Homo sapiens: one gene and its partners. The protein of the gene in region 3 purifies or fractionates together with the protein of the main gene of each other region. This does not show direct contact. Each region holds a gene or a part of one and is shown on either strand. Other genes may lie near its edges.

Evidence for each region.
Region 1: the proteins of VWA5A (region 3) and UCKL1 purify together in Homo sapiens (affinity purification with mass spectrometry; 2 studies listed by BioGRID and IntAct, with this or other methods). This does not show direct contact.
Region 2: the proteins of VWA5A (region 3) and BRIP1 purify together in Homo sapiens (affinity purification with mass spectrometry; 2 studies listed by BioGRID and IntAct, with this or other methods). This does not show direct contact.
Region 4: the proteins of VWA5A (region 3) and MTPAP purify together in Homo sapiens (affinity purification with mass spectrometry; 2 studies listed by BioGRID and IntAct, with this or other methods). This does not show direct contact.

Annotation. Positions count from the first base shown.
Region 1 is NC_000020.11:63,939,391-63,946,416, reverse strand, and holds the end of UCKL1 (uridine-cytidine kinase-like 1), read left to right. Parts: intron 1-149; coding exon 150-256; intron 257-417; coding exon of another isoform or gene 418-441; coding exon 442-612; intron 613-694; coding exon 695-766; intron 767-890; exon of another isoform or gene 891-1,334; intron 1,335-1,682; coding exon 1,683-1,872; intron 1,873-1,958; coding exon 1,959-2,020; intron 2,021-2,395; coding exon of another isoform or gene 2,396-2,551; exon of another isoform or gene 2,552-2,747; coding exon 2,748-2,764; exon of another isoform or gene 2,765-2,860; intron 2,861-3,690; exon of another isoform or gene 3,691-3,786; intron 3,787-3,924; coding exon of another isoform or gene 3,925-4,654; exon of another isoform or gene 4,655-5,208; coding exon 5,209-5,307; coding exon of another isoform or gene 5,308-5,373; coding exon 5,374-5,467; intron 5,468-5,560; coding exon 5,561-5,623; intron 5,624-5,700; coding exon 5,701-5,823; intron 5,824-5,931; coding exon 5,932-6,039; intron 6,040-6,110; coding exon 6,111-6,267; intron 6,268-6,361; coding exon 6,362-6,441; 3' UTR 6,442-6,588; downstream 6,589-7,026.
Region 2 is NC_000017.11:61,853,506-61,860,531, forward strand, and holds part of BRIP1 (Fanconi anemia group J protein), read right to left. Parts: intron 6,403-7,026; coding exon 6,291-6,402; intron 3,727-6,290; coding exon 3,553-3,726; intron 1-3,552. UniProt on the Homo sapiens protein: DNA-dependent ATPase and 5'-3' DNA helicase required for the maintenance of chromosomal stability. Acts late in the Fanconi anemia pathway, after FANCD2 ubiquitination.
Region 3 is NC_000011.10:124,118,442-124,125,467, forward strand, and holds part of VWA5A (von Willebrand factor A domain-containing protein 5A), read left to right. Parts: intron 1-91; coding exon 92-267; intron 268-533; coding exon 534-648; intron 649-4,518; coding exon 4,519-4,688; intron 4,689-4,924; coding exon 4,925-5,013; intron 5,014-5,218; coding exon 5,219-5,363; intron 5,364-5,795; coding exon 5,796-5,875; coding exon of another isoform or gene 5,876-5,879; exon of another isoform or gene 5,880-6,395; intron 6,396-7,026. UniProt on the Homo sapiens protein: May play a role in tumorigenesis as a tumor suppressor. Altered expression of this protein and disruption of the molecular pathway it is involved in, may contribute directly to or modify tumorigenesis.
Region 4 is NC_000010.11:30,318,277-30,325,302, reverse strand, and holds part of MTPAP (poly(A) RNA polymerase, mitochondrial precursor), read left to right. Parts: intron 1-2,685; coding exon 2,686-2,912; intron 2,913-7,026. UniProt on the Homo sapiens protein: Polymerase that creates the 3' poly(A) tail of mitochondrial transcripts. Can use all four nucleotides, but has higher activity with ATP and UTP (in vitro). Plays a role in replication-dependent histone mRNA degradation.

The DNA of each region.
Region 1 (7,026 bases), on a different chromosome or scaffold from region 3:
GCCTGCCTCCGGCTCCCCTCCAGTGCCTGTGGAGCAGGAGAAGGAAGCCGGGCAACCGCAGGCAGCGGCAGCGGGATGGGCACCTCTGGGACCTATCTGTGCCGGCAGCCTGCCTGTTCCTCACAGAGGGTCTCCACTCCCGCCGGCAGGCTTGGGAGGCGGCAGTGCCTCTGGGAAGACCACTGTGGCCAGAATGATCATCGAGGCCCTGGATGTGCCCTGGGTGGTCTTGCTGTCCATGGACTCCTTCTACAAGGTGGGCCCCCGCCCAGCTCCCCCGAGGACCCCTTTGTCCTCTCCCTGACCCTGGACCCCCTGCAAAAGTAGGTCCCTGGTCTCAGCCCCAGCGTGGCTGCTCCTGGGAGGCCTAGAGCCCCTGTCCGCTGGCATTGGGTGAGGGCCCTACTGTGCCCACAGCTGCTCCACAGCCTCCCCCACCAGGTGCTGACTGAGCAGCAGCAGGAACAGGCCGCACACAACAACTTCAACTTCGACCACCCAGATGCCTTTGACTTCGACCTCATCATTTCCACCCTCAAGAAGCTGAAGCAGGGGAAGAGTGTCAAGGTGCCCATTTATGACTTCACCACGCACAGCCGGAAGAAGGACTGGGTAGGCCAGGGCCCTGCAGAGGGGGCCTCGGGGGGCTGCAGGCACATGAGCCAGGCTCCGCAACTCCTGGGTTTCTTCACAGAAAACACTGTATGGTGCAAACGTCATCATCTTTGAGGGCATCATGGCCTTTGCTGACAAGACACTGTTGGAGGTAAGCACCCGCCGGGAATACCCACCCCGCTGGTATCTCAGCCCTGGCCGCCCTGTCCATGAGGTGTGCGTCCTCCTGCCCTGTCCCCAAGGCCTCCACACTGTATAGGCCTAGGCCAGCCACTCCCTACCCCAACCCCAACCCCAGGCATGCCACAGCTGGGTCCATCTGCCGGCCCCAAAAGGCAGAGCGTGGCTGCCTGAGGCAGTGGTTCCTCTCCACCGGCTGAGGCCTGTGCGCATACCTGGAGTGTCCTTGGCGTTCTCGTCCCTTGCCGTGGTCCTGACGGACAGGTGAGGACCCAGGGCTGGTGTGTTTGAGAGATTTTGCTGTAGCTCAAGGGGGCCTTCAGGACACAGCTGAGTGTGACTCAGGTTGGCCTGATCCCAGGGCCCAGGTCCTGCCCCTTGTACAGGCCCAGAGGACTCCATCATCCGGCACATAGCAGCCCCCAGCCTCCACAAGGCCTCTTCACGGGCCAACTACTGTGTGCTGAGCATGGGGACAGACCCTAAACTCGCCACGTCCCCCATTCCCCAGTGTGTTGGTGCAAGTTACCCCAAGCAAAGTAAGGAGATCACATGTGCCCAGCCCCATTCCTGCCTGATTCCTTAGCCAGCCACCATGCCATGCCTCTTCACCTAAGCCCCTGACGGGCAGCACCGCATCCCCAGACACCCCCACCTCCCCACTCCTTCCCACCTGCCAGGGTGCCCTGGGGAAGTGGCTCGGGCCAGGCCCACGGACCAGGTGCAGACACCCCCACCTCCCCACTCCTCCCCACCTGCCAGGGTGCCCTGGGGAAGTGGCTCTGGCCAGGCCCACGGACCAGGCGGCCTCAGTGCAGGGGCTGGTCCCAGTGTCTCCATGCCCACTGCTGGCATCTGGCCACTCACTGGCCCGCTGTCTCCACCAGCTCCTGGACATGAAGATCTTTGTGGACACAGACTCCGACATCCGCCTGGTACGGCGGCTGCGCCGGGACATCAGTGAGCGCGGCCGGGACATCGAGGGTGTCATCAAGCAGTACAACAAGTTTGTCAAGCCCTCCTTCGACCAGTACATCCAGCCCACCATGCGCCTGGCAGACATCGTGGTCCCCAGAGGTGAGCCTGCTGGGCTGCCTGTTGGGTGGGTGTCGGGCAGGCCAACGGCCCAGCCCCCGGTCACCCGCCCCCCCATCCCGCCCCAGGGAGCGGCAACACGGTGGCCATCGACCTGATTGTGCAGCACGTGCACAGCCAGCTGGAGGAGGTGAGCGGGGTCCCACGTCCCCACGGCCTAGCCCCCAGCCCCTCTACCCACTTCTCCGCTGCCACCACCCCCAGTGGCCTGGTCACCTCATCCCCCTGCGTTCACTGTCCCCTGCCAGGTGCCAGCCCTGAGTGTCCTGAGCCTGCTTGGCCAGTCAGATTGTCCAGCCCAGACCCCATCCCGTTGTGCTGTGCAGGGCCTGGGTTCCCTGAGGAAGCTGGGGTGGGGGTACAGGTGCTCAGGACCCAGCCGAGGGTGCAGCCCGCTCAGCACACCCAGCCTGAGCTTTTGGGAAGACAGGCATGACCTGCTGGCCCAGGATTGTGGGGTTTCACTGCTGAGTCCCACGCCAGGCCAGGCTCCTCTCTTTCTCAGGGGGTCACCCCAGGAGCGACACCCCCACCAGAGGTCCCCTGCTCCCTGAGGCATTCTATGGCTGGGCCTTGGAGCCTGAGTGGCTCTGAACACACTCCCTACCAGGATGTTGAAGGCCTGAGGCCTGCAGAACAGAGCCCAGGGTCCTGGCTCTGATTGCCCCAACGCAGAACTGCAGGTCTGGCCCAGGTGGTCCCCAGGTTACAGGCATTAGAAGCTTGCCACCCCCCATGGCTGGCTGTGTCCCCGCGGGCCTGCAGCATGTCCATTCCTGGGTGGGGGTGGCCTGGCCGCCTGCCCTGGTCACTGACGCGCCACCGTTCCCTTGTGTCTTCCTGTGTTGCTGCCACAGCGTGAACTCAGCGTCAGGTAAGACTTGCACAGCTGTCTGCACAGATGGAGGCACTTCCAACACCTCCAAGGAGCTCTGGGGTCTGGGCTGTGATCCAGCCAGGCAGCTGGCTCTTCCCCAGTCACAGAAGGGGTGGTGTGGAGTGGTCCCAGCCCTGCTTCTGCCTCCCCTTGCTGGCAGATGAGGACACTGAGGCACAGAGACGTGAAGTAGCTTGCCCAGCGTCACGGAGTCCTGACCCTGTCCTGGCCAGACTTTGCTGGAGGCTCCCCTGACTCCTGAGTCTGTCTATGGGATTTGACCCCAGAGAGCACAGCTGTCCTCCTGAGCCAGCACTGCCAGGCCTCTGGGGCAGTGACTACAGACATGTCCCAGCAGCCAGGGAGCCTGCTGTACCTCCTGTGCCCAGCCTCACGGACCAGTCAGCTTTCCCTGGTTGCAGGTGGAGGGCCTCGCGCCTGTCCTCCCACCCACCCGGGTCCTGCTTGCCCCAGCTCTGTCCTCGCAGCCCGCACAGCTCTGCCAGCAGGAACTGGGCAACTGCAGCAAGAAGCTTGGGCTGGGCCGGGGCCGCATCCCACTGTCCCTCCCCAAGGGCAGGCATGCAGGGGGGTCAGCCACAAGGGACCTGCCCTTCTCCCTGCCTTCTGTGGGTTGGGAGGCTCCTGACTGAGCCACCTGGAGGGAGAGCCCTCACATTCAGAGCCCTCCAAAGAGTTTGCCAAATGTTGGAAATGCCTCCAGGGCCCGTCCACCAGCCGTCCAGCTTCCGGTGCCTGCATGAGTCTCCGCTTGGCCCTCTCCTCGGCCTAGGAACCCGCAGGTCTTGTCCCGTCAGGTTCCTCCTGAAGCTTTTGTTCTGAGAGGAAAAACTTTCCAGGGTTTCAAACTTGGAAAAACACCTGAACGCAGCCAGACACATTTTCCGTCGTCTGGTCAGCCAAGGAAGTGTTGGCCTGTGGCTGCACTCACTTCCTTCAGCCCCAGGAAGCCTTGGTCGGGGGCAGGAGGGAGGGTCAGGCAGGGCTGGGGGCCTGACCGCCCACACTCCTCCTCAGGCCTGCGGGGAACGCCCTGCTCCCCAACTAAGCAGCCTTCTCTTTGTTCTCTTCCTTCTCTCTGTAAACCCCCGTTTCCTGCCTTGTTCCCTCCCTGAACATGCTCTTCACCTGGCAAGCAGAGGAAGCTACGTTGGGATATGTGAGCAGTGTGCTCCGTGGTGCTGCTGTGTGACCCGCCTTCCCGTAGCCCCTTGCCCCGCTGCTCCCGCTAGGCCCTCTTTCCTGCTCCTGCCCCGCCCCTTTCCCTGCCGCTGTCACGCCTCTTTTCTGCCCTGCCACACCCCATTTCCGGCCCCGCCCCTTTCCCTGCCGCTGTCACGCCTCTTTTCTGCCCTGCCACACCCCATTCCCGGCCCCGCCCCTTTCCCTGCCGCTGTCACGCCTCTTTTCTGCCCTGCCACACCCCATTCCCGGCCCCGCCCCTTTCCCTGCCGCTGTCACGCCTCTTTTCTGCCCTGCCACACCCCATTCCCGGCCCCGCCCCTTTCCCTGCCGCTGTCACGCCTCTTTTCTGCCCTGCCACACCCCATTCCCGGCCCCGCCCCTTTCCCTGCCGCTGTCACGCCTCTTTTCTGCCCTGCCACACCCCATTCCCGGCCCCGCCCCTTTCCCTGCCGCTGTCACGCCTCTTTTCTGCCCTGCCACACCCAATTCCGTGCCCTGCCTCTTTCCTTCCCCTGCCACACCCAATTCTGTGGCCTGTCGCTTTCCTCTTCCTGCCCCTGCATCACCCCCTTTCCTGCCCCGCCCCATTCCCTGCCCCTGTCATGCCCCTTTCCGGCTTTGCCTCCTCCCTGTCCCACCTCTTTCTTGCCTCCACCCCGCCCTTTTCCTGCCCGCTCCTAGACCTGCTGCTGCCCCGGCCATCCCCAGGCTTGGGCAGCGGGGCGGGACGGGACAGCCAAGAGACACTGAGCCAGCTTTGCCCCCCACCCCCCTCTCTTGAGGGGCCGCGCACCACCTCGGGGAGGAGCCAGGGCGGGGCCTGACCCCACAAAGCTTTAGTTCCCCCGGGGAGAGGCTGGGGACAAGCTACCCATTCTGGGGTATGACACCTATCAGCACGTGTGAGCCCGCCCTGTGCCCGGCCCACTTCTGCTTCCTCTTAGCGCAGGAGGGGTCCCGCACTGGGAGGGGCCCTCACAGCCTACCCCGCTAGCTTTCTGCCTGATGGTGAGCTTGCCCCGTTGTTCGCCGCCATCTTTCGCCTTTGCCTGACAGCTCAGGTAGGGCGACGTCTCCCCCCAGCTCAGCCCCAGGCAGAAGTCAGGCCCGCTCTGCACCTCGTGCTGTGCCTGGCCCGTGTGTTCCCCTCACAGTGACGCACAGCCGTCCTGTGGGGAGGGAGGGCTCTGGGAAAAGACCCCCTTCTTGAGTGTTCCCCATCGGTTTGTCCCCAGGGCTGCGCTGGCCTCGGCACACCAGTGCCACCCGCTGCCCCGGACGCTGAGCGTCCTGAAGAGCACGCCGCAGGTACGGGGCATGCACACCATCATCAGGTGAGGGCCCACCTGGGGACGGGGCGGCCCCGGGCGCGTGCTCCCGCTCAACTGTTGGCCCCACAGGGACAAGGAGACCAGTCGCGACGAGTTCATCTTCTACTCCAAGAGACTGATGCGGCTGCTCATCGAGCACGCGCTCTCCTTCCTGCCCTTTCAGGTTCGTAGCCCGTAGCCCGCGAGGTGGAGGGTGGGTCTTGGAGCCGGTGCGAGCTCCCTGCGCTCACCGGAGTCCTCACCCTGCACCCCACAGGACTGCGTCGTACAGACCCCGCAGGGGCAGGACTATGCGGGCAAGTGCTATGCGGGGAAGCAGGTACCTGCCTGGGCACACCTGGGCGCGGGACAGGCTGCTGGGGCGGGATGTGGGCGCTTAGCCTCCCCTCCCCGCAGATCACCGGTGTGTCCATTCTGCGCGCCGGTGAAACCATGGAGCCCGCGCTGCGCGCTGTGTGCAAAGACGTGCGCATCGGCACCATCCTCATCCAGACCAACCAGCTTACCGGGGAGCCCGAGGTGCCTGGGGGCAGCCGGGGTGATGAGCCCGGGGGTAGGGGGCAGAGGGAGCTCACAGCAAGGGGACGCAGGGAGCCCCACCTGCAGCCTGACCCCTGCTGCCCGCAGCTCCACTACCTGAGGCTGCCCAAGGACATCAGCGATGACCACGTGATCCTCATGGACTGCACCGTGTCCACGGGCGCGGCGGCCATGATGGCAGTGCGCGTGCTCCTGGTGAGTGAGCCCTGGGTAGGCGGGGCAGGTTCAGGCAGAGGTGGGATTTACCTGCCCAATACACTCGGTAGGACCACGACGTGCCTGAGGACAAGATCTTTTTGCTGTCGCTGCTCATGGCAGAGATGGGCGTGCACTCAGTGGCCTATGCATTTCCGCGAGTGAGAATCATCACCACGGCGGTGGACAAGCGGGTCAATGACCTTTTCCGCATCATCCCAGGCATTGGTGAGGCTGCCCGGGCCCTTCAGCCGCACATGAGGGCAGGGTGGGTGGCCCTGGGAGGCCCCACCACACTGGACCCCCCCCCCCCTTTTTCCAGGGAACTTTGGCGACCGCTACTTTGGGACAGACGCGGTCCCCGATGGCAGTGACGAGGAGGAAGTGGCCTACACGGGTTAGCTGCCCAGTGAGCCATCCCGTCCCCACCACCCTCCTCCTGCCTCCTGACCCAGGACTGCTGAATACAAAGATGTTAATTTTTAAAATGTTACTAGTATAATTTATTCTATGCATTTTATAAAATAAATAAAGCTTTAGAAAAATGAAGGTGTGATTGGTTACAGCACAGGAGAGGTGTCCTGGCTGAGGCATGCATTTGTGGAGACTCCCATGGGGAGGGAGGGAGGGAGCTGAGGGCCCTGCCTTCTCCCCTGCAGGACCAAGCATTCCCAGTCTTGCACTTGTGCCAGATGAAGGAAGGGGTAGAACTGGGCCCTGCAGCTCCTAGCTCTGCTAGATGGGGCCCCTAGAACCCATAGCTTGGTGGCCACCTGGCCTGGACCTAGGGAGGGGACAGGGCCCCCTGGTGCTCTGGGTCTCACAAGAGGCAGGCTGTTTTGCCCCCACCCACAAATTTGTACCATCAGGGTCCTCCCCACAGTTGGGGGGGGGGAGGGTCCTTCCCGTCAGGACAAGTCGCTGGAGGCAGCAAAGCCAGGAGGCAGACCAGGGCGGAAGTGGGGGCCTGCGCTTGGAGGCGGGGCC
Region 2 (7,026 bases), on a different chromosome or scaffold from region 3:
AGCGTATCAGAATACAACCTTGATTTTTCCCATTTAGACTATTCTAAATAACACTGACTCACAGTAATGTCAAAATCAAGTTGTGTACATATGGATAACTCATTGTTGATAAAGACACAAAGGCAATGTAGTGGATAAAGGATAGCCTTTTCGATATATCCAGGTGCTGAACAACTGGATATCCACATGCAAAAAAATGAACTTGAATCCATACCTTACACCATATACACATATTAACTCAAAATGGATCTTAGACCTAAATGTAAACCTAAAATTCTATCTGATCAAAGACTTGTATTCAAAATGTTTAAAGAAGTCTCAAAATTTAACAGTAAGAACACAAACTAATAAAAAATAGGCAATTATTCGAACAGACATATCATCAAACAAGATACATGGATAGCTAATAAGAACATGAAAATATGGGAAATAAAAATTAAAACCACAATGAGATACTGCCACATGCCTATTAGAGTAGCTAAAATTAAGGCCAGGTATGGTGGCTCATGCCTATAATCCCAGTGCTTTGGGAGGCCGAAGAAGGCAGATCACTTGAGCCCAGGGGTTCAAGACAAGCCTGGGGAACACAGTAAAACCAACAAAAACTATAAAAATTAGCTAGGTGTGGTGGTGCATGCCAGTAGTCTCAACTACTAGGGAGTGTGAAGTGTGAGGATCACTTGGTTCCAGGAGGCAGGGGTTGCAATGAGCCAAGTGAGCCAAGATCACAGTACTGTACCCAGCCTGGGCAACAGAATGAAACCCTATCTCCAGGAAAAAAGAATGGCTAAAATTAAAAGGACTGACCATACCAAGGGTTCACAAGGATGTGAAGAAACTGGAACTCTCATAACTGCTGATGGGAATATAAAATGGTATGACCACTTCATGAAACAGTTTAGAAATTTCTTAAAAAGTTGGCCAGGCACGGTGGCTCACGCCTGTAATCCTAACACTTTGTGAGGCACAGATGGGTGGATCACTTGACGTCAGGAGCTACAGAGCAGCCTGACCAACGTGGTGAAACCCCATCTCTACTAAAAATACAAAAATTAGCCAGGTGTGGTGGCACATTCCTGTAATCCTAGCTACTTGGGAGGCTGAGGCAGGAGAATCACTTGAACCCGAGAGGCAGAGGTTGCAGTGAGCTGAGATTGCGCCACTGCACTCCAGCCTGGGCAAGAGTGACTCCGTCTCAAAAAAAAAAAAAAAAAAAAAAGTTAAAACATACACACCTACAAAGCAATCTGGTCATTCTGCTCCTAGTATTCACCCAAGAGAAATGAAAACATACATCCATACAAAGATGTAGACACAAATGTTCACAGTATCTGTCTTTGTAATAGCCCAGAACTAGCAATAACCCAAATATACATAAACAGCCAATAACCAATTTGTGGTATATCCATGCACAATTACTCAGAAATAAAAAGAAACAAACTATTAATACATGCAACAACATAGAGGAATCTCAAAATAATTGTCATAAGTGAAAGAAGCCAGACAAAATAAGTATACATCCTGTATGAATCCATTTATATAAACTATAGAAAATGCAAACTAATCTATAGTAACAAAAATCAGACAGGTGGTTGGTTGGGGAGGTGAGTCATGTAGGGGTGGGAAAGAGGGATAACAAAAGTCCATGAGAAAACTTTTTGGGAAAGTGAGCATGTTTAAAAAGTTTTGGATAAAGTGAATATGGGGTTGGTGTGTATGTTCACTGTCTTGATTCTGGTGAAAGTTTCATGGAGGTACATATGTCAAAATGTATCAAAGTGTACCATTTAGGCTGGGCGTGGTCGCTCACGCCTATAATCCCAGGACTCTGGGAGGCCGAGGCAGGTGAGTAACTTGAGGTCAGGAGTTCGAGACCAGCCTGGCCAACATGGTAAAATCCTGTCCCTACTAAAAATACAAAAAATTAGCTGGGTGTGGTGGCAGGCGCCTGTCATCCCAATTACTTGGGAGGCTGAGGCAGGATAATTGCTCGAACCCAGGAGGTGAAGGTTGCAGTGGGCCAAGGTCACACCACTGCACTCCAGCCTGGGCAACAGAGTGAGATTCTGTCTCAAAAAAAAAAAAAAAAAAAGTACCATTTAAATATATGCAATTTGTTATGTCAAGTAAACGTCAATAAAGCTGTTTTTAAAAGGTTGTATATAAATATTATACACCAGAATTCCTATAATTAGCTGAAAATTAATCCCATTCATTCCTAACAACAAATATTTATCTAGCACCTACCATATGCCAGGCACCCTGCTAGAGTTCTAGGGATACAATGGTAAGCAAATTGACAATATTCCTAACCTCATGAAGTAGTCTGCCAAGGAAGCAGAGATTAATAAAAGATTTAGACAGACACATATAATACAAACTGTAACAAGTGCTATAAAGGAAAGGTACACAAGGAGAAGACAGACTATAATAGGAAAATCAAATCTACTCTGACAGAAAAATCAGTGATGGATACCCCAAGGAAGTCACATGTAAACTGAGGAAGAAAAGGATAATAAATTGAAGATGGAACTTTGCTCAGAAGAGACACTAATAGAAGCAAAGGCTCTGAGGAAGGAGAAAGCATAAATCTTTGAAGGAAAGGGAAGAAATCCAAAAGGCCAAAATCAAAACAATGTAGACAACACTATTGGTCACCTATTTAATAACTGTTCCACTTCTCTTTCCTCATTCCTACCAGAAGTTCAATCATCTACCCTCCTCTATATAGTCACATGCTTTAGAGGAAGCTGACTCCATCCTTGATTTTAGGAAATGGATACTCTTTGTTTTGACTTAAGTCAATCATGGCAACCTCTGTCTCCCTGCCAGTGACTGGTAAAGGAATAGCATGAGTAAAAGCAGAAAAAAGCGTTATTGGATGCTCTAAACAAGAAATGGTAGTTTGGACTATGGAGGTACCAATGGATATGGAGATGTACATGAAGAAATAAGAAAGAGCAAAGTGTCCAGGATGTTCCCTAGGTTTCTTAGGTAAATAATAGTCTATCCTTTCTATACAGCCAAAAGCAGGTGAAATATTTTTTAAATATATTATTAATAATCTTATGTTACTCTTAATGTATTTCTCTAAAATTAGTAAAAATTATTTAAAGATCACACATAAACATACCTGATACTTATGTAGGATACTGGCCTCAGAAGGCCAGGCAAACTTATCAAGAATGAATCAATGAGGCTAATTAGATTTCGTCTTAGGATACAAACATTGTTTTATAGAATTCTAACATATAATTAACAATAATGGCTACAAATAACATCAATTTTGGAAAATCATTTATTTTGCCTTGCCTTCCTTAAAAAATTATTTAGGACAACAAAATGTCTCAATAAATTAAAAGTCAAACCAAGAATTTAAAAACGTCTATGGATTTTTGACCACTCTGTGCTATTTTAAAATCATTCCAGAGAAACTAGATAGAGATATATAATCAGTTATGCTAACCAAACTTATATAAATTAGGGCTTATAACAGTAATAATTAAGACTCTTATTACAGATATCAACTGACCCAGGCAAAATATAAATTACCTTGACAAGTTGATGAAGTGCCATTTCTTTCAGAAGGTGGTGTGCTTGGATAGTTGAAATGACGTGAAGTTCCTTGGTTCATGTCATTGTTTGTAAAATCCTTTGAATGGCATGCACAACAACATGACAATTGTACTTCAGCTTTTTCACTTACGCCCTCATCTGCTGGTTTCCCTAAAAATGAAAGAACATCTATTTATAATATATCTAATTAAATAAACATCAATCATTCTCTACAGCCCAGTTCACCCAGGATTGGGAGGTTTCCTAAGATAAAAGATTTTTAGGGCTAACACCAGGAAGGTACCTGGCAAACCTGGACAAGCTGGTCACTTTATCTGCAGCATCAAATTAGGACAGGAGAGAAATAAGCCAAAAACATTTGGTTGGACACAGTGGCTCACGCCTGTTATCCTAGCACTTTGGGAGGCCGAGGCAGGCACATCAATTGAAGTCAGGAGTTTGAGACCAGCCTGGCCAATATGGTAAAACCCTGTCTCTACTAAAAATACAAAAATTAGCCAGGCGTGGTAGTGCACGCCTGTAATACCACCTACTCAGGAGGCTGAGGCAGGAGAATCGCTTGAACCTGGGAGGCAGAGGTAGCAATGAGCAGAGGTCATGCCACTGCACTCCAGCCTAGGCGACAGAGCAAGACTCTGTTTCAAAAACCAAAACAAAAACATTTATAGGGAAATTATCACCCATTTATGTAATCTGTAAAAATCTAATAATCTAAGATTAATAATGTAATAAAAGTACAACTACTCAAGTATTCATTTATATTAAGATTTATCTAAAATTCAAGAATGGATTGAAACAAGGACATAAAGTATATCCTTAATTACTACTCTTTCCCTAAATGAAGAATTTGAAAGTTCAATATATTAGATAATAATCTAACACATAAGGGTTAAATCATTCCCCCAATTATACTTCTATTTCAAATAGAAACATGTTTTTTGATGTATTAATTCTGATACTTGCATCAAAATACATTTTAAGGTCAATATTCAAATCAATAAAATAGGTAATTTTAGTGCTAAATATAATACCAAATTGTAATAAGTTTACATTGTGTGCCTACATTGTATACAAATGTACAATTCATATACCCCCAAAAAAGCTAAATAATTTATTTTTAAAAATAATCAGTATTGACATTGTTTTCCCATTTGTACCATATAAATATTCCTAATTCTATTTTCCAGACATCTGCCATTAAGACCTGAAGTTAGTACCGATAAACTCATTTTTCCCAAAATTAACGTCAGTGAGAATCAAAATGAACAACCAAAAGCTTATGAAGTATTTACTGTTTTTTTTTTTTTTTGAGACAGAGTTTCGCTCCTGTTGCCCAGGCTGAAGTGCAATGGCGCGATCTCGGCTCACTGCAACCTCCACCTCCCAGGTTCAAGTGATTCTCCTGTCTCAGCCTCTCGAGTAGCTGGGATTACAGGCACACGCCACCTCACCAGGCTAATTTTGTATTTTTAGTAGAGACGGGGTTTCTCCACGTTGGTCTGGCTGGTCTCAAACTTCCAACCTCAGGTGATCCACCTGCCTTGGCCTCCCAAAGTGCTGGGATTACAGGCGTGCGCCACTGTGCCCAGCCTTAATATACTCTTATTAGTAACAAACATTTCATTTTAAAAATGTATCTATATACCTATATACACATACATACATACATACACATACCATGTTTAACCTCAATTCTCCTAATACTTTAGGTTAAAGCCATCTAATGTAACTAAAATGTATCCAATATTATATTTCTGATTCATTATGTAGTTTATATAGTCTTTCATAGAAGTAAATATTAATAGGCATTTGTTAGCAAACAAAGTAAAAATAGTTTGGCCTGGTGGCTCATGCCTATAATCCCAACTATTTAAGAGGCTGAAGCAGGAGAATCACTTGAGCCTGGGAGTTTGAGGTTACAGTGAGCTATGATCACATCACTATGCTCCATCCCAGGTGACGCCACTCAAAAAAAAAAAAAAAAAAAGGAAAAGTAGTGGGAAGTAATATAAATTCATACAAACAATATTATACTAAATTTCTGTTTATCTGGCATTTAAACAAGTAGAAAGATCAACTAGAATGTATTCTTTTTTATATATTCCATGTGCTGATGTTATGAGAAAGGAACAGGTAAGCAAATATATTAAAGGATTTCCCCCCCCAAAAAAAGCAATTAGTATGTGTTACAGCATCATGACAGCCCATCTCTTGCATCTTTTACATACAAATTATCATCTAATTATTTTTATAATAACTCTAAGCATCCAAAACTTTGTTTGTTTGTTTTCTTTCACCCAGGCTGGAGTGCACAATCACAGCTCTCTGCAACCTCGACCTCCTGGGCTCAAGCGATCCTACCACCTCAGTCTCCCAAGTAGCTGGGACTACAAGTGTACATCACCATGCCTGGCTAATTGATTGTCAATTTTTGTAGAGATGGGGTATCACCATGCTGCCCAGGCTGCCAAGTCTTTATGTACTTTCCGACTCATCAAAAGACTAAATTATGTTCAATACTATTTTAGCATTAATTAAACATATTTTGCTATATTGAAACTCTTTTGGAAGATTTATAACTTATTTCAAAGAAACATCTTTAAACAAATATTTAAGTTAGCGACAGCATGGCTGAACCAGTCTGGATAAAGAATACTGTATTATATTTTCTCAGATCCCAGTAAGTAACCTGAAGATATCAAGCAACTACTTACCACTAAGAGATTGTTGCCATGCTAAAGCAGAACAAAGTAAGGCTAAGCTTTTTCCACTTCCTGTGGGACTCTCCAACAAACAATGTTGCTTGCTGTTTAATCCTCTGAGAATCTATGAACACAGAAACCAATGAAAATAATAAACATATTAACTTTATAAAGGTCTCTCTCCATCTGAAGTTTAAATAGAACAGCAAGGAAAAGTGAGATTGCACTCCAGGGAACACAACAATAGCAGAAGGAACTCATATTTAGTTAAATCCAAACTGTATTCCTTTACACCTCTCCCTAAGATTATCTTACTAAAATATCAAGCACAAGAGAAGAAATGAAAAGAGGAATCTGTGCCAGAATTATGCAAGCATCAATGATTTCTGTAAAACCAGAATACATTACTACCTATCAATATATTTGATGAAAACTTAATGAAGGATACTGCTAGTGAGAGTACAAATTGTTACAACTACTTGGTAGAGAAATAAACAATTTCTTATAAAGTGAAGATGCCCAGCTCCAGCAAGTCCAGTTCTATGTGTACACCCAAAACCTTTCCCACATGAACACAAGGAAACATGCATAAGAAAGTTCACAGCAGCAGCCACGCTTGTAATCCCATCACTTTGGGAGGCCAAGGCAGGTGGATCATTTGAGGTCAGGAGTTCGAGACCAGCCTGGCCAACACGGTGAAAACCCGTCTCTACTAAAAATCCAAAAATTAGCTGGGCGTGGTGGCGCA
Region 3 (7,026 bases):
GTGGGTGACATAAATGGGGAAATTTTCTTAAGGTTGAGAGTGTCATAAAAAGTGTTGGCAAGGAAAACAGAACTAAGGTCATCTTTTATAGGGTCGTCTAAGGACAGTTGCCTTAATGTGAAGACTCCTATAGTCCCTGTGGAGGACCTGCCCTACACACTCAGCATGGTCGCCACCATAGATTCCCAGCATGGCATTGAGAAGGTCCAATCCAACTGCCCCTTGAGTCCTACCGAGTACCTAGGAGAGGACAAGACTTCTGCTCAGGTAGTTAATGAGAGAATACTGCTATTGTCAGTACCTCTGTTGCTTGAGTCTTGACTTGGTCCCCAACCAGTTCTTCCCAAGTGGTAACCCAGAGGGGGTCCCACATGCTCCTTGCATATCGTCATTTAATCTCCAGAGCCTTCTCTCCAGCCTCACCTCTGTTCCTAGTCATGCTGTCTTATGGAGGAGGACTGCGCCCTAACCTCAGCCCCAAGAAGCAAGAAGTTATGATTCTAATGTGGCTCCTTTACCTGTCCTCCACTCAGGTTTCCCTGGCTGCTGGACACAAGTTTGATCGGGACGTGGAACTCCTGATTTACTACAATGAGGTGCATACCCCCAGCGTGGTTTTGGAGATGGGGATGCCTAACATGAAGCCAGGTATTTTCTTTCTTCCTTTGTAGTCATCCCCTAAGGGGCAACTCCCTGTCTTGGAATTACTGTCGAATTACTCTCTTTTCTTTCCTTCCCTCCAGGGGTGGTTAATACATGTGAAACACTGAAATAGTTTACACTATGTCATGCAAAAATGGTTAGGTTTAATGACTGTCATGTGATATGTCTTGTAGGCAAATTTAAGTAGATCAGTAGATAATTGGGCAAAAGCCAGGAACAGATAATTTACAAGAGAAAACATGGCCAGTTTATAAACATGTGGCAATGATCAGTCTTGACAGACATCCAAATAATCATGTGACATTTTCACCTTTCAAATTATCAACGATTTCCAAATCTGATGCCTCATGCTTTAAAAGGTTTTCTTAAGGTTGTGAGTGTGCTAAAAAGTGAACTAACCTTTCGAGGATAAATTTGGCCATATGTGTTAAATCAATGTTAACTTTGGTAATTTCACTTTTAGAAATCTTGCCTAAGGAAGTAAATCCATATATAAGTAAAAATATGCACTGAGATGTCCCCCACCATTTTAATAATATCGAGTATTAGTAAGCAATCAAAATGTCTCTTATTGGCTAAATTTGCTATGCTAGGTATACTTCATGAGTTAATATGCAGCTACTAAAATAGTGTATATTGACAGATTGAAGTAATTGGACAAATGACCTCCAAAGAATGTTACGTAAAAGAAAAGTAAGTTATAGACAGATTACCACTATAAAATACTCTGTGCTTTAGGAAAAACATTTTAAAACACAGGAAGAATGCAAGTAGTCATTGTGATTAGATTGACTAAGTTTAATTCTTAATTAAGAAAGTTCTTAATTTCTTTTTTATCTAATACATAATTTCTATTGATTGATTCATCACAGCTACATGCAGTCTCAACTGAAGTTTTTTTCTCTTTTCGAGATATAATATATGTAACAAAATTGACCATTTTAACTGTTTTTAAGTGTACAGTTCTGTGGTCTTCAGGACATTCACCTTGTACAACCATCACCACCCTTCATCTCCAAAACTTTTTTGTTTTGCCCTAGCTTCTTAATTTCTAAGACTAAGTTTAGCTTCTTAATAACTTTAGTTTCTTAGTTTCTTTTAATGTTTATTACTTTTGAAATTTTCCTTAATGTACATGCACTCTTTCTTGGAATTTAAATTGGTGTAACCCATGTCAGTTTGCTGTGTTCTTGGGGCCTTCCTGGGCTGCCATGCTTCTGAGTTTCGGTGACACAGGACTGGAGTGCTATTGCCACTTCTGAAGCATTTACACATGGTGGAATGGACATGTCCTTGGTGACAATCATATTCAAAGTGGGACGGCTTGGCTTAGGCTCTTGTTTTTACAATTATAGCTGTTGTCAAGAAAATTCCCTGTAGTTGTTTTTCTACAGAGTACCCTACTCTCTCATTGTTAATGTTTGCTTCCAAAGTAGCTTCATACTTGAGCTCACAAATTGAACTTTTTAGTTTTCCCTCACTTGTTCAACCACTCTTCCTCAGGGCAAGCTCTCCATGCTAAGGTCATTCAAGGGGCTCCCAGCTTCCACCAGATTTGCTGTAACCATCTCCTCTTCCACGAAGCTCCATGCTCTGTCTTTGTACGTTAGTTATCTGCTTTTTCCTTTCCTTATGGTGACTATTTCCTTGGGTGTCCATGAAATATTCCCATAACAGTGACCTACGTGTCAGTTAAGATTATTTCAAAGGACTGTTTTCACCAGAGAAAGTTCCATAATGTTGGATCTCAAAAGGTAAGGATTGAGATCTCAGTCCCTGTTTTTCTAAGAAGTTCCCCTGGCCCCTATGCAGATTTTCTCATCTAGTCCCCATGACCAGGTCTGAAGGCCAAGGGGGGACATCAGGGACAGTCTTTACAGTCTTGTGAATCCCTTCCAGCAGGACTGCTCAAGTCTTGCTTCCCAGGTCGTATATTTAGTCAAGATGACTTGCTGTTCTCATCCACACAAGGAAGCGAATGACAGCTTTAAGCGGCAGCTTGTCTCACTGAAACCATTCAGAGTTCTGCCAAATGAAACCTACAGATATATGACAAAAACACAGTATGTTATTTGTTTTACAGACTTAGAACAGATGTACTTACGATATTAAGAACATGTTTTTCTAAAATTAAATTTATAATTTAATTTAAAAATTGTATAAAAATAAAATTTACAAATAATTTTATAATATTGGTTATTATGGGTTTAATCTGAGTTGAGCCCTAAACTGAGTTCCTTAAGTACATTATATTACTTAACTCTTACAATCAAGCTTGTTCAACTCATGGTCTGTGGGCTGCATGTGGCCCAGGACAGCTTTGAATGCAGACCAACACAAATTTGTAAACTTTCTTAAAACATTATGAAATTATTTTGTGATTTTTTTTTTAGCTCATCAGCTATTGTTAGTGTTAATGTATTTTATGTGTGGCCCAAGACAATTCTTCTTCTTATATGACCCTGGGAAGCCAAAAGATTGGATACCCCGGCTTAAAATAATCTTGACGTAGGTGTTACTACCTTGACTTTTCAGAGGAAGACATGAGGCTAGCAAGCAGAGGAGCTAAAGTTTGAAATGCCTCATTTGAAAACAAAGAAGCTGAGACTCATGGAGGTGAAAATAATTTGAGCCAGGCTAAAATTATAGTAGATAATCCACATATAACGCTTACAATTCATCTGGCATTGTTGTAAACAGGTTAAATATGTTACCCCATATCATACTCATGCCACCCTTTCTGACTCCTCAATATAGCACCAGCTCCATTTAAACCAGCTGTCTCTGAGAATGGAAAGGAATCTTGCTCATCACAAAAGCTCCTCCTCCATCGTATATCCAGACATCTGGATTGTGTAAATGTTATTTTTTGAACTAGTGTCCTATCATATATTTGATGGGCAACACCCATCTTATTTAGAAGCCAGTTTGGTGTCTGGCATATCCTATGGAGAAGAAATTAAACTGAGCCAGATTCTATTGTCATACCAAATCCCAGGACTACTGAGAATATAAATCTATGATCCTGGAACTGCTTCTTAAAAATGGGATAAAGGAATTTAATTATATAGCCTCTTATATTTTCTGTAAAGCTGGAGTTAACCTAGCCATTCTCATTGCATCTCTATCTCAATACTAGCATTTCAATTCCTGTATCAGCCCTCACTTGCTTCTAAAAATAGTCACAGCTGTGGCTTTGACAACATGGCCAGATAGACTGGGCTCCTGTGGTCACCCCCACACCATTGTTTGGATGATGATAATAGAATCCAACATGTGTCTCAGTGTTTCCCTTTCTTCTGGGGACTATCAGCGAGTTATTCACACCCAAAGCAGACAGACTTACCTTGGTGGGTATAATACTTATACTCTCAACACTTGTAAATTGTCAACCTAAAAATTGTCCATGTGAGTATCACTTTTTTCAAAGCTGTAATTAAAGACTTAAGGCCCATGTGATACATTTCCCATTTATTTGATTTGAAGAAAAGGTTTGATTCTGCAGATAAACTTGTCTGATTCTTTTGGCAAATGCTGGAACATTTTAACCTAATGTATTTCATTCATTTGCCTAGCTGCCAGGAAACTAGTAATCAGTGACAATGTTTTAACTATTGCTTGTGTCTACTAACTTCTATCCTCTTTCTTCTCTTTCATATCTGTTCTGTTTTTGTCTGTCTTATATATTTATAACTCACCTTGACCCCATTGCAAGCAGTTATGGTACATGAATCATCACAGTGTTTTAGATTTGAGTTTTCCTAGCTCTTAATTGAATTCACTACCATTGATTCTTAGGTACTAGGATTCTTGAGTTCCTTTTTGTCTTACAGTGGCTTTATCCTTTCTGAACAGGTCATTTGATGGGAGATCCATCTGCAATGGTGAGTTTCTATCCAAATATCCCAGAAGATCAACCATCAAATACCTGTGGAGAGTTTATCTTTCTCATGGACCGCTCGGGAAGTATGCAGAGCCCCATGAGTAGCCAGGATACATCTCAGCTGCGAATACAGGCAGCCAAGGTAAAGCTAGTTTCTTTCCTCTTCTGGGTCACATGCTCAAGTGAGGATGAATCTGAGGGGTTAAATAAGGGTCTATCTGGAGCCTGAGAGAGCAGCACGACCACCCTGAGGCTAGCCTTGGAATGTAAGAAGGCACAAGGTGGGGGATGGCCCACATCCTCAAGAGTCGATTGACAGGGCCCATGTGTTTTGGCGAGCCTCTCTCACTCTGTCTCTTCATACTCTCTTACCTTCAGGAAACACTGATTTTGCTGCTGAAGAGTTTACCTATAGGCTGTTATTTCAACATCTATGGATTTGGCTCTTCCTATGAGGCATGCTTTCCGTAAGTTTCTGGAAAGACAATAGGGAGTACAAAACGAGACTTTAAAGAAAGGGACTAAATTGTTAAAGGGGTTACTGCGGAGTTGACTTTGGCATTGGGGGTTTCGGATAAGACTCTCTTTTAATGGGGGTTTCTCAATTCAGGGACTCTATACTGGGCAAGGTTAAGTAACCCTCATGTAACTGGGTGTGTTTGTTTTTCTCAGGGAGAGTGTGAAGTACACTCAGCAAACAATGGAGGAGGCTCTGGGGAGAGTGAAGCTTATGCAGGCCGACCTAGGGGGCACTGAAATCTTGGCACCACTCCAGAACATTTACAGGGGACCCTCCATCCCAGGCCACCCCCTACAGGTAAGAAGTGGAACAGAGCTAACAGAAGAGACAGGAAGTGTGAAATCTCTAAGAATCTATGCCCCTGAGCTTCATGCAGTATGTTGAAATATAGTTTGCAATTCACAGTCTTCTATCATATAGTAAACAGAAAAAAAAAAGATGATGCATTTGTCTTCTTCCTTAACTCCATGCGATGGACACTGGAAGGCCTTTTATGGAGTGCCACAATAACTGAGATGCAGCTAGGAGGGGAGGTGCTAAAAATTCCCAGGGTTCTGAACAGATCATGTGAGAATGTGGTGCCAGCGACTGAAACATTAGGGATTTCATGCCTCTTTGAAGAGGCACCAGAGCCTCTGCAATGAAATAGGTGGATTTTTCAAGGGCAAATTCTGGTTTCTTAAAAAGAACTTGACAAAGACCTGATGAACATTTTCTTTCTTTGTATAGCTTTTTGTCTTTACAGATGGAGAAGTTACAGACACGTTTAGTGTAATTAAAGAAGTTAGGATCAACAGACAGAAACACAGGTAGGAAGAAAATGTGATTTCCGGGTGATTGGTGCTGAGTAGTGACACACAGACTCTAGTGCTACATGATGCCGGTGTTGACCTTCCTTCAAGAGGACCAAATGATTTCAGAATTTAGTTTTAGCAGCTGAAAATTTATTTCTCCCTGTAAACGTTAAAAACAGTTTTCCAAATAACATCAACAACACAGCAAAACCATTGTTTCTTATTCTTTCTAAACTACAACGAACACAAGAATTGAATAGTAAGATGTTAATTTTTTTTACTATAAACATTTTTAGAGAAGTAAAACATGCTGAAAACTACACAAATTATAAGCATACAACTGGACTCATTATCACAGTGAATGCACTGTGTGATCGCCACATAGGTAAAAACTGGAATGGTCGTAGGCCTCTCCATCTGTACCCTTTTCCATCATGTCCTATTCCCTGTCACTACACACTAAAACTTTCCTGACTTACAATACCATGGGTTATTTATGCTTGTTTTTGAATGAAAATAAATAAGTTATACAGTATGCTTTTGTTTCTGTGTATATTATTTCTTTCCTTTCAGCAGTGTGTTGAGAGATTCATATACATTTTGAGTATAGCCATAGTTCATTTTCATTGATGTATAGTATTCCACAAAATGACTATGCCATAATTTATATATTGATTTTAATGCTGTTGGACTTCGATTTGGCTGTTAAAAATGATGCTGCTGTGAACAGTTTTGTATTCTTGTACATGTATTGTTTTGCACACACGTGTATATGCATACATACCTATTTATATACGTAGATTTTTCTCTGAGTAGACAGAATTGTGGAGTTTCTAGGGAATGCCAAACATTTTTCCAAATGATTGTACTAATTTAATTCATTAAATTGTAGGAGTGTTCCAATCGCCTAATTTCCTATCCAAAACATGATATTGTTTGTCTTTAAATTTTAGTTTTGTGTGTGTGTCGTGGTGTCTTATGGTTTTTTTTTTTTTTCTTGAGATGGAGTCTCGCTCTTTCGCCCAGGCCGGACTGCAGTGGCGCTATCTCGGCTCCCTGCCATCTCCGCCTCCTGGGTTCACGCCATTCTCCCGCCTCAGCCTCCCAAGTAGCTGGGACTGCAGGTGCCCACCACCGCGCCCAGCTAATTTTTTTGTATGTTTAGT
Region 4 (7,026 bases), on a different chromosome or scaffold from region 3:
GCCAATCATAAGTACTTGCGACTTTCTCTCAAGTAAAACTCATGGAGTAAAGTCTGTGATTTCTTGACAAATTTTAGTATAAAAATATAATACTGTACTTTCTATCATTATTATATTTTCTTTGTAGTATGTAAAATAGGACAAAATTACATTTATCTTTGTAATTATGTTTTTTTCTTTATATCAAGATACCTTATACTTTTTGATATTTATTTTTAGCTTAATTTAGCTTCATTTTCATACATAAAACACTTAATCACAATGAATTTCTAAGTTGCTGTTTCTTCTTTTTCTTTTTCTTTTTTTTTTTTTGAGACATAGTCTTGCTCTGTCGCGTAGGCTAGAGTGCAGTGCCGCAATCTTGGCTCACTGCAATGCAACCTCCGCCTCCTGGCTTCAATCAATTCTCCTGCCTCAGCCTTCCGAGCTGGGACAGGCACATGTGATCATGCTGGCTAATTTTTGTAGAGACAGGGTTTCATCATGTTGGCCAGGCTGGTCTTGAACTCCGGACCTCAGGTGATCTGCCCACCTCGGCCTCCCAAGTGCTGGATTACAGGTGTGAGCCGCCACGCCTGGCCTTGTTTCTTCTATTCTTTTTAAAGACAGTTTTAGAGACAGTTTTAACTTGATGCTGTTAAATTATTTTTTTATGCCATCTGTTGGTTCTTGGAGAAATTACAAGACACGTTTTGATCAGTAGGAGCTTAATATTTTTAATTTAATTTAATTCTATTTTTACTTTTTTAGAGACAGTGTCTCTCTCTGTTGCCCAGGCTGAAGTGCAGTAGTGTGATCATAGCTCACTGTAGCCTCGAACTCTTGGGCCCAAACAATCCTCCTTTCTCAACCTCCTGAGTAGCTAGGATTACAGGTGCATGCCACCACGCCTGACTATTTTTTTAATTAAATTTTTAAAATTTTGTTTTTCTTTTATATATACATTTTTTATTTTTATAAAGACAGGGTCTTACTATGTTACCTAGGGTGGTCTCAAACTCCTGGGCTCAAGTCATCCTCCTGCTTTGAAATGCTGGGACTACAGGCGTGAGCCACAGTGCCCAGCCAATAAATGCCTTTTTGTCTTTATCGATTTTATATATATATATGTGTGTGTGTTTGAGATGATGCCTTACTCTGTCGCCAAGACTGAAGCCCAGTGGCTTAATTTTGGCACACTGCAGCCTCTACCTCCCTGGGCTCAGGTGATCCTCCCACGTCAGCCACCCAAGTAGCTGGGCCTACAGGTGTGCGACACCACACCCAGCTAACTTTTGTATTTTTTGTAGAGACAGTGTCTTGTCATGTTTCCCAGGCTGGTCTTGAACTCCTCGGCTCAAGCTATCTGCCCACCTCAGCTTCCCAAAGTTCTGAGATCACAGGTGTGAGCTACTGTACCCAGCCATTTATTAATAATTATAAAGCGCCTTTGTGTGTTTTACATATTATTTAAATCATGTTTAGAAACTTTGATTTAAAAATTCTAAGTTCTAGGCTGGGCACAGTGGCTCACGCCTGTAATCCCAGCATTTTGGGAGGCCGAGGCGAGTGGATCACGAGGTCAGGAGATTGAGACCATCCTGGCTAACACGGTGAAACCCCATTTCTACTAAAAATACAAAAAAATTAGCCGGGCGTGGTGGTGGGCGCCTGTAGTCCCAGCTACTTGGGAGGCTGAGGCAGGAGAATGGCGTGAACCCAGGAGTCGGAGCTTGCAGTGAGCCAAGATCGCGCCATTGCGCTCTAGCCTGGGCGACAGAGCGAGACTCCGTCTCAAATAAATAAATACATACATATTCTGAGTTCTAGATCTACATTTTCTTTATTTCTTTTTTTTTTTTTTTTTTTTTTGAGGCAGGGTCTTGCTCTGACACCCAGGCTGGAGTGCAATAACGCTTTCTCGGCTGACTGCAGCCTCCGCCTCCCGGGTTCAAGTGACTCTCCTGCCTCAGCCCCCCAAGTAGCTAGAATTACAGGCATGCGCCACCACGCCCAGCTAATTTTTGTATTTTTGTTTAAGACAGGGTTTCACCATGTTGGCCAGGCTGGTCTCAAATCCTGACCTCAGGTGATCCGCCCGCCTCAGCCTTCCAAAGGGCTGGGATTACAGGCATGAGCCACTACGCCTGGTCCTAGATCTACATTTTCTTTCTTTTTTTTTTTTTTTTTTTTTTGAAACGGAGTCTTGCTCTGTCTCCCAGACTGGAGTACACTGGTATGGTCTCAGCTCACTGCAACCTCTGCCTCCCGGGTTCAAGCAATTCTCATGCCTCAGCCTCCTGAGTAGCTGGGATTACGGGGGCACGCCACCACGCCCAGCTGAATTATTGTATTTTTAGTAGAGAAGGGGTTTCACCTCGTTGTCCTTGAACTCCTGGCCTCAAGTGATCCGCCCACCTCGGCCTCCCAGAGTGCTAGGATTACAGGCATGAGCCACCGAGCCCGGCTTACATTTTAATTATCAATTTTAAGAGGATGTTTTAATGGGAATGAATGTATTTGATATTCAGCCATTCATATTAAATTTTATATTGCAAATTCATAATGCTTTTGATTACCTAATGATGTTCTGAATACATTCAGATATAGTAGGATATTTAGATGTGTTTCTTGGTTTGAGTTTAATTTTACCCTTGGTTTATAATTTGGGGATTTGAACATTTTTCTTATTTTTATTTTTTGAAGGATTGCCTTGACAAGTTCCGAACTCCTTTATATATATGGTGCCCTAGACTCAAGAGTGAGAGCCTTGGTGTTCAGTGTACGGTGCTGGGCTCGAGCACATTCACTAACAAGTAGTATTCCTGGTGCATGGATTACAAATTTCTCCCTTACAATGATGGTCATCTTTTTTCTCCAGAGAAGATCACCCCCTATTCTTCCAACACTAGATTCCTTAAAAACCCTAGCAGGTAAGACTAGAAAGAAACTTCTCCATTTTCTTTTTCCAATGTTATGAGTAAATATAATTACCATGTGTTACCAAAGTCCCGTCTATTTGTTTATTAGTCATAAAATTTGTCTTGACTTTTTTTTAAAGTCTACCGGAGTCACGAGAGCAGATGATTTGGGAAGCTAGGGCCTTTAGCATTTTTTGAGAGTTCTGTTTTCTTTGTATCAGTTGGCAAGGTTGTTTACAGCAGTTGTGAGATAGCTGGAGCTTCTCCCCTAGTTGACCAAGTCTAGAATGACCTTTTTCAGATACAACTTGTTCAGATACAACTTTTGATTGGATCACAGTCTCAGAGATGACTTTCAAATCTGAACTTATGTTTAGACTTGTATTAGAGATACTAAAACTGCTTCGTGATGTTTCAAAGATTCTAAATGTGTTTTTAATGAAAAGCATATAAGCAGTCTTAGGTGCATTATTTTAAATTTGACATACTATATTGTTTGTATTATAAATGATTTTATAAATGCCTCCCAGATTCAAGTGATTCTTGTGCCTCAGCCTTGCTGAGGCCTGCTGGAGAAGTTATGTTATAAAATCTTGAAACTGTAAATGCTAAAGGGAAGATAATTAAGGGGTACATACACACAAATGCATACTGTCTTCTACCCGTCTTACATAATTGCTGCCTGATAATTCGATTAAGTGCCTTCTTGAATCTTCCTGTTTAAAATGACCTTAAGAGGCAAACTATTTACATAGCTTGGTGTTTAAAATCTTTAGCTCTCTAGACACGGCCCAGTTTTCCATGCTCTTCCCTACTCCTCTTTATGTGTCCCACATTCCAGCCAGTGCTGTGATTACCCTTGGAACATTTCATCTTAGCTTTTTGTTCACACTGTTTTTCTGCCTGGAATCTGCTTTCTCTTCTCCCAGTCTAAATTATTTCTTCCATGCTACCTTCCTTTATCCATATTAGAAGTGATCTCTTCCTGTTAACACTGTAAGTGTTGATATTGTTTGAAATTGACCTTAAAAAAAGCTTGATTTGTGTTTACAACTAATTGATCACAACCAGTTACAAATTTCTGTGTTCCTTCTCCACTCTCACTGCTTCACTTGACTAGCCTAAAGAAATAAAGTAAAATGAAATAAAATAAAATAAAATAAAGCTAGATTTGATAGGTTAAGGGAAAATGGGAAGTTTTCAGTGGGGTAGAGTGGTGGTCACTTATCTCACTTTTGAGATTAAAATAAAGGGCAGCATCAATATCTGTGCTCATTTCATCCCTTAGTGTCATTCATTCAGTATTTACTGATTACTTCCTATGCGTCAGGTGTTATTGGAGTAGTGGGGGTATGAACAGTGTTCCCAGATAACTCACAATCTAATGGAGAGGTAAGCCATACATAAGATATGGGCAGATCTTCACCACTAAACTACCTGTAAGTAGCACTTCCTTTTCCACTCCTGCTGTGTGCAGTGGTGCTTAATGCTACTCTCATAGAAACCATCGTGGGGAAAAATAACGGAACTTTGGGAGTTCAGAAACTAAGAAACAGTAGAAGCTGTAAAAGGAGGAGCAGAAGAAAGTTGAACTTGGGGTAGACTACTCCTAAGCATCTTGATTGCTCCCTTCAGTCTTACAAGTACTGGTACCCCTGCCCATGTTAAGGCCCTGTTGTCCTCTGCCTGGGAAGGCTTATGTTGTCTTTCCTCCTTATCTCAAGTTTGGTTCCCACCAATCTATTCTTAGTTAAGAGAGTGATTTTCACAAACACATATGATAGTATTACCCTCTTTTGCAGTCCTTCAGTAACTTTCTATTATCTTTTTTAAAAATGGTCACTATTTTTTTAAAAATTTTATTTATTATTTATTTATTTTAAGAAAGGGTCTTGCTCTGTTGCCCAGTCTGGATTACAGTGGCACAATCTCGGCTCACTATAGCCTCGACCTCCCGGGCTCACGTAATCTCACTTCAGCCTCCTGAATAGCTGGGACTATAGGCATGCACCACCATACCTGGCTAATTTTTTAATTTTTTGTTGAAACGGGGTCTCGCCATGTTTCCCAGACTGGACTTGAACTGGGCTCAGGGGATCCTCCCATCTTGTTCTCCCAAAGTGTTGGGATTACAGGCGTGAGCCACTGTGCTCTACCTTGTAGGCAGGCTGGAGTGCAGTGGTGCAATCTTGGCTCACTGCAACTCTGCCTCCCAGGCTTAAGTGATCCTCCCACCTCAGCCTCCTCAATAGCTGGGATATACAGGCTTGTGCCACCACTCACTCAGCTAATTTTTTAAAAAACTTTTTGTAGACATGGTGTCTTACTATATTGCCCAGGCTGGTCTCAAACTCCTAGGCTCAAGCGATCCTTCTCAGCCTCCCCAAGTGCTGGGATTTTAAATGACCTGTTGAGTTTTTAATTCCAAATCTACATTAAAATACATTTAAATATGTTCACATCGTATAGCATCAAAACAGGCAAAACTAGCTTGGAATTCTTTAATATTTCACTTGAAACATCAAATTTGATTGTTTTTAAATTTTTGCAGTAGTTTTTAAATACGGTAAGAGAATTTTTCAGGCTAGTTTTTGCAATTGCTTCTCGGCATATAGCACATTGTAGGTGCGAATTGCCAATAAATGCCAAGCAAAATACACTTTTTGCCTTCCATCACCTATGGTTTTTGAAGTTGCTGTAAAAGAACTTGTCTTAGATTAATGTATATTAAGAATTTGGTGAAGATCATTTTGAGGAGAATTTATCAATATTTTCCTTTTCCTTTTTTTTCCCTCCAAAATCCATGGTTTTTATACTTTCTAATTTTGACCAGTAGTTCAACTTTGGTGGACATTAAACCTAAGGAAGAAAACAATTTTAAACTGTGAAACAATCAAAACCATATTGAGTACTTGGTGTTTAATCATGTAAGTGACCTGAATCTTGTGTACAATCATTTCATTTCTTCTAAGCTGTACCTCTCATTTGATATACAAATAATCAATTTGTTCTTTTTTAAAAGAAAAAATATTTTATTTGCTTCCTTGCTTGTTTATTAATAGAAGGCAACATGAATTCCTAGAATACCTTCCAGAACTTCTAGGATTTTGTAAACTACTATTTAGAACCTAAGCTAAGCTAAAGACCAAACTTTTTCACATTGTATGCAGGGCCCTTTATCACCTTCCTTTTTATCCTCTTCTTTTACGTTGATTCCTGTATACCAGTTGGGAGCTTTAGCCACTCTTGAACTCCTTGATGATCCCTGATGTTTTGTGCTTTTTTTCATTGCTCCATGCTTTTGCCTGAAATGGCCTTCTCCCAGCCTCCCCCTCCCAGCCACCCCGCTTTTTTTTATGGAGAATCTCAAGATTAAGCCAGAGAAGACAGACAAACCTAGTACAGGATCTCATCTGTTAGGTCTTTTCTTGCTGTCCTCTCTGCTTCCCAGTGGGTAGTGCTTTGTTGGTTTCCAAGCTCTTGGTACACACCTGTATTGTAACAACTGTTAGATTGTTGTAGTTCTTTTATGTGCCTGCCTCAGCATTGTCAAGCTTTTCTAGGGCTAGCTGTCTGCTTCACCTCTGCGTCTTCTGTTCTCGGAATAGTATTGGGTTCATAGTAGGAGTTCACTATGTAGATTTCAAAATGATTGGATAACATTTTAAAGTTGAGGGCTGTTTGTACTGGGCAAGATGGACCATGATATTAACTTTCATATTTGGTTCCTCTTGAATTGCCCTGTTTATTTGTGTTTTCTTATAATCTCCACTGTGTTCTCTCATATGTCTCATTTTCTTGTGTTTTCCATGCTTTCTGGCTTTGCTACTTTTGTTACATTTACTTCTGTGCTTAGTGCTTTAATTGAAGATTCATTCCTGAAAAAAGACACAGCAGCTAAAAGAGCATCAATATATGTGACTGACACTGCATCACAAAAAAACATACACTGTTAATTACTTGAAATAGTAAAACATGTGCTCAGGTTCCTTAAAAATAGATCTAAGTAGAAATATATATACATACATACATTTTATATAGCTCCTTCAACATATTATAAATTGTATAGTAGAGCACGTAAAATGTGCTATTAAAATGTTAAAACCTAGAATAATTTTTGAGAAAT